Linked DNA regions of Homo sapiens: region 2 is linked to region 1. The links come from fine-mapping of genetic effects on gene expression. A gene starts in region 1. The other region holds a variant in brackets. All regions are shown on one strand. Distances are from middle to middle.

What was found. PIP is the estimated chance that this variant, and not a neighbour inherited with it, causes the effect. A credible set is the group of variants that fine-mapping cannot tell apart.
Region 2: its variant is the best candidate, but not a certain one, in a credible set for the expression of PLEKHA7 in blood mononuclear cells (TOPMed, PIP 0.54).

The regions. Positions count from the first base shown.
Region 1 is chr11:17,011,943-17,016,326 of GRCh38, reverse strand. PLEKHA7 (pleckstrin homology domain containing A7) reads left to right here and starts at 1,913. Exons shown (of 27, transcript NM_001329630.2): 1 at 1,913-2,011; 2 at 2,126-2,202; 3 at 2,281-2,338. The coding sequence starts at 1,926. RefSeq lists a silencer at 3,211-3,505 and an enhancer at 3,390-4,151.
Region 2 is chr11:16,961,173-16,965,556 of GRCh38, reverse strand. The region is part of intron 3 of PLEKHA7 (pleckstrin homology domain containing A7); the gene reads left to right. Among named protein-coding and RNA genes, the nearest start is that of SNORD147, 37 kb to the right of the region's middle. The variant A/T (reference allele first, on the strand shown) is at 1,747.

The DNA of each region.
Region 1 (4,384 bases):
CCTATTTTCATTTGCTCAACAACCTCCTCAGAGGCAGGAGGTTCCTTCAGACAGGTGTCCCCCGTCCTCTGCAACCAGTTACCTCTTCTAACTCATAAATGCCTCCTTCCCCAACACCACTGTCTGTTCCCAAGGAAGGGCCCCTTTATGGTCTCATCAACATCTCACAGCCCTCCCAAAATTATGTGCATGCTCTCCCATCCCTCCCCTCTGGAGTGCTCTTTTCCCAGTCAAACCTAACCAGTCCTTCAGGGTCCAGCCTAATTCCACCTGTTTGGGCACCTTTCTGAATAACTAGTGCTCACATTGCATACAGTCTCACTTTCAGGCGCGCCTCCTCCCATCAATCAGAGCCTATGTCCCGAGAAGGCTGGGCCTGACAACAGCTGGAGCCCAGCTGCTGCTCTGTCTTTGCTCAGTGTGTGTGTGTGTGTGTGTGTGTGTGTGTGGCCGGGAGTCTGAGTGTGGAGTATGTTTCATTCACTCATCCTGCAGTTTTTTTTTTTAGACTGAGTCTCGCTGTTGCACAGGTTGCAGGGCAGCGGCGCGATCTCGGCTCACTGCAACCTCTGCCTCCCTGGTTCAAGCGATTTTCCCGCCTCAGCCTCCTGAGTAGCTGGGATTACAGGCGCCCGCCACCACGCCCGGCTAGCTTTTGTATTTTTTTGGTAGAGACGGGGTTTCACCATGTTGGCCAGGCTGGAATAGAACTCCTGACCTCAAGTGATTCACCCGCCTCGGCCTCCAAGAGTGCTGGGATTACAGGCCTGAGCCACCGTGCCCCACCCCATCCTACAGTTATTGAATGCGTAATGCATACATGAGTCAGGTGCTGTTCCAGGCATTGGAGACCAGGCAGTGTATGAGGTAGATCAAAGCCCCTTCTCTCATCCAGCTGACATGTTGGAACTAATATACAACAAACAAGACAAACACAAATATCAATTAAATGTAAACAAGTAATGAAATAGCGAGGGAAGGAGGGGAAGGATTTTCTTTGCAGAGGGCTCAGGGAGGGCTCCCCGAGGAGATAAGATAGGAGTAAAGACCCGAATATGAGAGGGTGCCGCCACTGCAAAGAGCTTTGCAGGGCCCCCTAGAGGCCCCGCCTGGCCACCGCTCTTCCAGAGATGGACGTGCTGCCGAGCCCTCAAAACCCCTTTTTTCTGTTACTTGACAGAAACTGAAGGCAAGAGCTTGCGATCCCTGCAACCTCAGTGGTGTGTGGCGGTAACCCTGCTCCCTCCTGTTTCACATCCCAGCTGAAAACTTGGGAAAATGAAATCGCGCTCGGCCTGCCGTTGATAGAGCACCTACTACATGCCATGGTCCGGTTAAGCACTTTATGCGATTGTTACTTCATTTAATCTACACAACAATCCCGTGTGGACTCGATTAACCTTACAGGGGAAGAGAAGGAGGCTGGGAATATGGCAGGAACCTGAGTGTTAACTTGGTTCACACACAAGCGGAGTTCCCGGGTCGGGAAGTTCTGTGGTGCGGGTCGGCTGGGGTTTACTGAGCGTTCGGGCGCTCGCCGTTTTCGGAGTTGGTCGGGTCCAACCGCGCGCCCCGAAGCTGCCCAGGCGCGCCCGCCAGCGGCCCCCGCCAGCGGCCCCCCGCGCCGCCCGGGTCTCCCGGCCTCGGGGGCAAAGGGGAGCGCCGGTGCCAGCAGGCTGGGGGCGGGGAAGGCTCGGGGACAAAGGCCGCGGGCACTGCGCTGGGTTGGCCGGAGCGGCTGCGAACTCCGGGCGCCAGGACCCGGCCGGGCGGTCGCTCCCTCAGGAGCCCGCGCCTGGATGGAGCGCCTCGCGGCGCCGCCGGGCCACGCGCAGGCCGAGCCCCCGCCACCGCCCCCGCCTCCGCCCCTGCCCGCGCCCCCGCCCCCTCCCCCCCACCCCGCGGCGGCTCCGCGCTCGGCGAACATGGCGGCGGCGACGGTCGGGCGGGACACTTTACCTGAGCATTGGTCCTACGGGGTGTGCCGGGATGGCCGCGTCTTCTTCATCAAGTGCGGCGCGAGGACCCGGGGACGCGGGGACGCGGGTGGGGGCGCGGGGGCGGGGGCCGGGCGGGCACCCGGCGGGCTGTGGCGGCGCTAACAGGTGCACCTCTCTGCCCGCAGTGACCAGCTCCGCTGCACGACCTGGCTGCATCCGCGCACCGGGGAGCCCGTCAACTCGGGCCACATGATCCGCTCAGGTGGGCGCCGGGCCGGCGGGTGGGGGGCGCGCGCAGCGGCGGCCCAAGTTTGACCCGACTTTTCTGGCGTTTCCGCAGACCTGCCCCGCGGCTGGGAGGAGGGCTTCACGGAGGAGGGCGCCAGCTACTTCATCGAGTGAGTGAGTGGGGCCGCCGCGCTCGCACCTGTGCCGCGGGGGGGGGGTCCCTCCCCGTTCCCGCCGGGCGCCCCGCCCTTCCTCTGCTCCCGCCGGCCCGGGCTCGTTGGCGCGCGCTGCGCCGCGGCCACACTCAACGTTTTGTGTGCCCAAGTTGTTTGGCGGCCTCCGAGAGGAAGGCGGTGGGGGCCGCACCTACGCTGGGGACCTGGGCCGGGGGGGAAGAGGCCGCAGACTCTGCGCCCTGGACCTTGCAATCCGGCTGGATTCGGGTGCTGGTGTGCGGGCTGGGCACGCCTCCCCTCTAGGGTCTGGGGCTGCGCCCCGCCGGGAGAGGCGAGTGCCGGGACCTGGATGGGCTCGGGTGGGAGGAGTAGAACGAGAAGTTCTGTCCTGGTGTGGGCCTGCGGGGTTGGAGTGGGGAGAGGGAGAGACTAGGGGAATCTCGCTTAGGAGGACGCCCCCTCTCCCGCCGCAGGCTCTGGGATGGTCTTGGAGAGTCGGAACCTCGCCCCCGGCCTCCATCCACTGCGCGGGCCTGCGGGGAGGGAGGGGGTGGGGAAGGGAACTGGTCAACCAATGACTTTCCTCGAGCGCTCCGCGTCTCTTCGGCCGGAGCTGAACCGGGGGATTGCTGGTGCTTCCGTTAGTCCACGGGCGACTTTTCCGCAAAAGCCCCGGAGTGTTGGCGCACCAGCCAGGTTACCCTGGGTCTGTAGGATCAGTCCATGTCAGATTGGGGCGCAGTAAGTGAAGGCGCGGGTCAGGCTCCTATGCCAGTACAGGCTTTGCTTTCCCACTCCGGCGGGAGTCTGTGTTGCAGCGTGTTTCCCTCTGCCTGCTGAGCTCCGGGAGGCCAGACACTGCCTTTGACCCCTTGCCCCAGTGCCGGACAGCAAGTAGGCACTCGGTAAATGTTTGTTCACTGAATGAATCAGCTCGCCAAAGGTCTGGACGGTGGTCTGACTAGTACTGACTGGGTGTACCTCGGCGACTGTGAGTCAGAACTACTACTGTTAGGAATAAAGCAGCCTATTTCAAGAAAACCCCGGAACCTCCTTTTCTGGTTTGGGTTCTTGCATAATAGTTGAAAATACTGATGGGTGAGATTTACAGACCTAAGGACTAGGGCCTTGCTGCGGTTCTATTGCCCTGCCTCATATGTGTGTATGTGAAGTTGGGGAGTTGGCTGGGGCCATCAGAGTCTTGCTGTCAGTGGGCCTCTCTGGCTCATAACTGCATCAGTTGATGTTATTACAATTTTCCTGTGTGCCACACGTTCACACGTTGTTCTAGGCATTGGGAACAAAAAACAGAAAAGTTCTAGGTGCTCATGGAGCTTGCAATCTAATAGGAGAGGGAAGGGAGTAGAAAATAAGTAAAAAACACAAATAATAATATCAGATCGTGGTTACTACTGTGCAGAAAGTTAAAATAAGGTGATGTGACATGGAGTGACTGGGTGGCTTGGTTGTACTGGGAGATCGGGATGGTGTTTCTGAATAGGCAACATTTAAAGTAAAATTTGAATGACAAGAAGGAGACATCATGTGATGATGAGTTGGCAAAGCATTTCGGGAAGAGCGAACAGCCAGGGCAAGGGCTTAAGGCAGAAAAGAGCTTGGAGTTTAAGGAGCAGGAAGGCTGGAATGTGGTGCACAAGGGAGAAAGTGGCATGAGGAGAGGTCACAGGTAGGAGAAAGGTAAATGCCGCAAAGCTTTGTGAGCCGGGGTGAGGAATTTTCATACTTTATTCTAAGCCCAGTGAAACGTCATTGGAGGGTTTTAAGCAGGGAAATGGCATGATTTGGTGTGTGTTTTTAGAACGATCACTGTGAGGAGATTGGATTGTAGGTGGCCACTGCAGGGGGAGGCAGGAGAGCAGCTGAGGCTGTTGCCCTCTTCCAGGCAGGAGTTAGAAGTGGCTTGCCTGAGGGTGGTAGCACAGTAGACAGGGAGTAGTGGTCACATTCAGGCTGTGTTTAGGAAATAGGCTCTTCACACCTTCATGATGGACTGAATAGTCTGTGGGAGAAAGAGAAGAG
Region 2 (4,384 bases), 51 kb after region 1:
TCTGTCTACAGATGCCTGTCTCTCACTTCCCCCAGGAGTAGGAGAACCCAAAGGTGAGTTGGCAATAGAGAAGTGTCAGGCACTAAGGGGATGAGGGTGGTGGGTTTTGTGAGTTATTTCCCCCAGATATCTTTCTCATTGCCATTGACACAATACATTAAAATTCAGAGGAAAAAACTACAACAAAGGAAGAATTGGTCTAAGATAGGGGTCTTCAAACCTTTTTTTTTCTTTTTGAGACAGTCTCGTGCTGTCATCCAGGCTAGAGCGCAGTGGTGTGATCTTGGCTCACTGTAACCTCTGCCTCCCAGGTTCAAGTGATTCTTGTGTCTCAGCTTCCCAAGTAGCTGGGACTATAGGCACGCGCTACCACACCTGACTTATGTTTTTGGGTTTTTTTTTGTATATTTTGTAGAGACGGGGTTTCGCCATGTTGGCCAGGCTGGTCTCAAACTCCTGACCTCAAGTGATTTGCCTGCCTCGGCCACCCAAAGTGCTGGGATTACAGGCATGAGCCACTGTATCTGGCCCAAACCTTTTTTTTTTTTTTTTAAATCATGTATATCCCATTAATAAATGAGCATTTGCCCCAACACATGTATGCTCATTTATAAATTATATACATACCTGCTGTGCTAATGAAAACACACACAATTGTAAAAGGATGGCATAAAAATAAACCTGAATAGGTGTTCTACTGTTTTCTTCTAGAACTCCGTGGGTCATCTTGAGCACCTCAGGATTGAGTGCTGTGCACTTTGGAGACCCCTGGTGTCCCCCAGTATCTAAGGAATGCTCTATTACTGCAGCGCAGTGCCCTGTAAGAGAGCGCACAGCTGGCTGGACCTCCAATTTCAGGTGCTCTGATTTTCAGAAGCAGGAAAGGCCCTGCCCAGCCAGCCCTCATGCTTTTTGTCTGGAGTTTTACCAAACTGAAGGAATCCCAGAGTGAAACACTCCTAGTTGCTTCTCTGGTTGCAGTCCTTTGCTGTTACCCCAAGGCCCCTCAGGAAGTTCCAAGAGTGTGCAGACATCCTGGGGTATGAGGGAAAGGCTGTTTCCTAGGCTTGGGTACAGCTCAAGGATTGGTGAGGATGTGGAGAAATTGGAACTCTTGTGTGTTGTGCATTGCTGGTGGGAAAGTAAAATAGTGCAGCTGCCCTGCTTTGGTGGTTCCTCAAAAATCTAAATAGCATTACCCTGTGATCCAGCCATTTCATGTCTAGGTATATACCCAAAGGAATTGAAAGCAGGAGCTCAAACAGATATTTGTACACTTAGGTGCATTGCAGCATTATTCATGGTAGCCAACAGGTGAAAAGAACTCAAGTTTCCATCAACAGATGAATGGATCAACAAAATGTGATATATACATATAATTGAATATTACTGAGCCCTGAAGAGGAAGGAAATTTTGACACATGCCACAACACAGAGGAACTTCAAAGACATCATGCTGAGTAAAATAAGCCAATTACCAAAGGACAAATTCTATGATTCCACTTTTATGAGATACCTAGAATAGCCAAATACATAGAAACAGAAAGTAGATTAGAGGTTTCTAGGGCCTGAGGGAAGGGAGAAATCGGGGGTTGTTGATAACTAAGAGTGCTTCTGTTTGAGGTAGTAACAAAGTTTTAGGAACATAGTGGCGTTGGTTGCACAACATTGCGAATATAATAAAGTAAGAATAAGACCTTAAACATAAAAGCAATGAGAGGTGGCTGGGGGCAGGGTTGGAGAAAC[A/T]GGTAGTTAATTCTTTTGTCCAAATGCAGTGCACCTACTGATCAGATGCCAGGGTGTCCCTGTCCTTTTGGATACCTGCTGCCAGATTAGGGCTACTCGAATGGGACACTTGTGGCCACACCCTGGTCATTCTGACTGGCTGTACAAATAGCTCTCCTGGCTCCCCAGGGGACATGTTCATCAAGATTTAGGCCACAAAGTAGGGCCGTTTGTTCCCCCTCTTGCCCCTCTCCCCAGTCAGCTGACGACAGCTCCAGTGTTGCAGCCCAGCACCCCAGGATGGATGACACACCTCCCTGGTGCTCCATTGTCAGGGCTCTCTGATTTGCAGAAACAGGTAATAGTTTCTGTCTATGGTTTGGAATCATGAAGTAGGGCAAGACAAGTTTCTTTGGAGTTAAATTTAGGGCTTAGAATCCAGGGGGTGGCTGAGTAAAGCTGTATTTAACTCCTACTCCACCCTCAAAAAAGAAAAAAAAAAGTCCTAAATTAAGCAAGGTACAAGGAGCCTGCAGCTACCTCAACCAAATTGGAACACATACCTCTAAAAATAAAAGATGCTGAAGTCTAGAAAATACCAAATATGGTTATAGGTCAGGCACTTGCTTCTCTGCTTTTCTAATGTCACCATCCCTGTCCCAGTCCTGGAGCTGCACAGAAGTGGCATGGCCCTCCTCTAGGAGGACTGCACTGTGTACAAGGCCTTGTCTTTCCGTGATACATCCTGGGTCAAGGAGTGGAAGGCCACCTCATCTACAGAAAAGGAGGCTGAATCCAGAGGGTTGCAGTGGCTGCCTTGCTCCTCGTCACTCTGATTGTCTTGCAGTGGGAGGAACAAGTATGCATTTGCTTCTCTTGTATCTTTAACTCAGAGCTCCACTCAGTGCCATCTAGTTCCCAAGGCACCAGTAGCCAGGCCCCATATCTTGAGCACTGTGATTTTCTTTTTGTTGTTGTTGTTGTTGCTTCTGGGAGATGTGGGTACATGAGACATTCTTAGAAACACAAGTTCAGGGGAGGCTGCCAAAGGACCACATCAAGGTGCTTGTGGGCCAGGTGCAGTGGCTCATGCCTGTAATCCCAGCACTTTCAGAGGCTGAGGTGGGTGGATCACTTGAGGTCAGGAGTTCAAGACCAGCCTGGCCAACATGGTGAAACCACATCTCTACTAAAAATATAAAAATTAGCTGGGCATGGTGGTATGCACCTGTAGTCCCAGCCACTCAGGAGGCTGAGGCAGGAGAATCGCTTGAACCCAGGAGATACAGGTTGCAGTGAGCTGAGATCATACTGCTACACTCCAGCCTGGGCAATGGTATGAGACTGTATCCAAAAATAAGGTGCTTGTGGCTACAGGCAGAACTTGAGTTCTCAGGGAGCGAAGACTTAAGGTGGTTTTGGGTCGTGAGTGTTGCACAGTGGAGATAATAACCACGGTGGAAAGATATTGGGCACTTACTGCTCATTGACTGGTCGCCAAGAGTCTTTTTACACAAGTGATCTCACAACCACCCCATCAGGTGGACACTGTGATAATGCCCATTCAGAGTGAGAAAACATAGGCTAATTAGCCCCCTCATGGCCACACAGCCAGCGAGAGGCAAAGATGGGATTGGAATCCAGGCAGTCTGTCTCTAGCACTTTGCCACCATGTACATCAGTCATTTCTGCCAAAGCCACAGGGCTGCCTCCTCATCTGAAGCACAGGGCACTGTTTTAGGAAAAAGAATCGATTAAAGGTTGACTTGCTTCCCCCCATTTCCTCCCTTCTGAAGTGGGAGTGGGATCAGCTTGATTTTGCAACGTAGGCTCCTGCTTTATACCTGGTGTGTTGTGGTCAGGCCCCACAGGACATATTCGTCATGCACTTACTATGTGCCAGACCCTTCCATAGGTGTTTTACTCATGTTATCTCACAGCAGCCAATGAGGCAGGTGGTACTGATCCTAATTTACAGGTGAGAAAACTGAAGCACGGAGAAGTGAAAGACTTGCCTAAGTTAAATCACGAATTAATGGCATAACCTGAATTTCATCTCAGGACCATCTGACTCAAAAGTCCATGGCCTTCTCACCCCCTCTCTGGAAGATGCCATGGGTCTGCTGTGACCTTCCACACACCGGGCCCTGCCAGAATCCTGTCTCTCACTTTGATGATGCCAGGGTGTGTCTGAGGACCAAGGTTGAAACAACTCTGTCCCCTTCTGGGGATGATGCTGCCCAGGGGAGAATAACAGCTCAGGATGTCACCCTCCAGGCACAGCCAGGGGTGGGTGCAGGGTTGGAGGGCCTCTTTTCTGGGCCACTTCTCCGGTTGCCTGTAGCCCGTAATTGTAAACTCTCTGGAGCTCTTGGCTGCCTGGCTGGAAGCTGAGGAAGGCTCATAGCCTTTGAGAGGCCAGGGCTGGTGTGAGAAGCAGGTACTTTTCCCATCTTTGAGTCTTACTCTCCGATGAGCTGAGCATAGCCTGGCGTTAGGACCACCTCAAGGCGCTTGGGCGGCCTTTCCACAGCCCTGCCTGGCTGAGTCGCCAAGATTCTGTCCTTTCTTCTGGAGCCTTGGTCATCCTAGTGAGTGGCAGAGAAACCAGCTGGGACTGGGGATGGGGACAGGGTGGTTTGGGGACCTCACTGAGGAA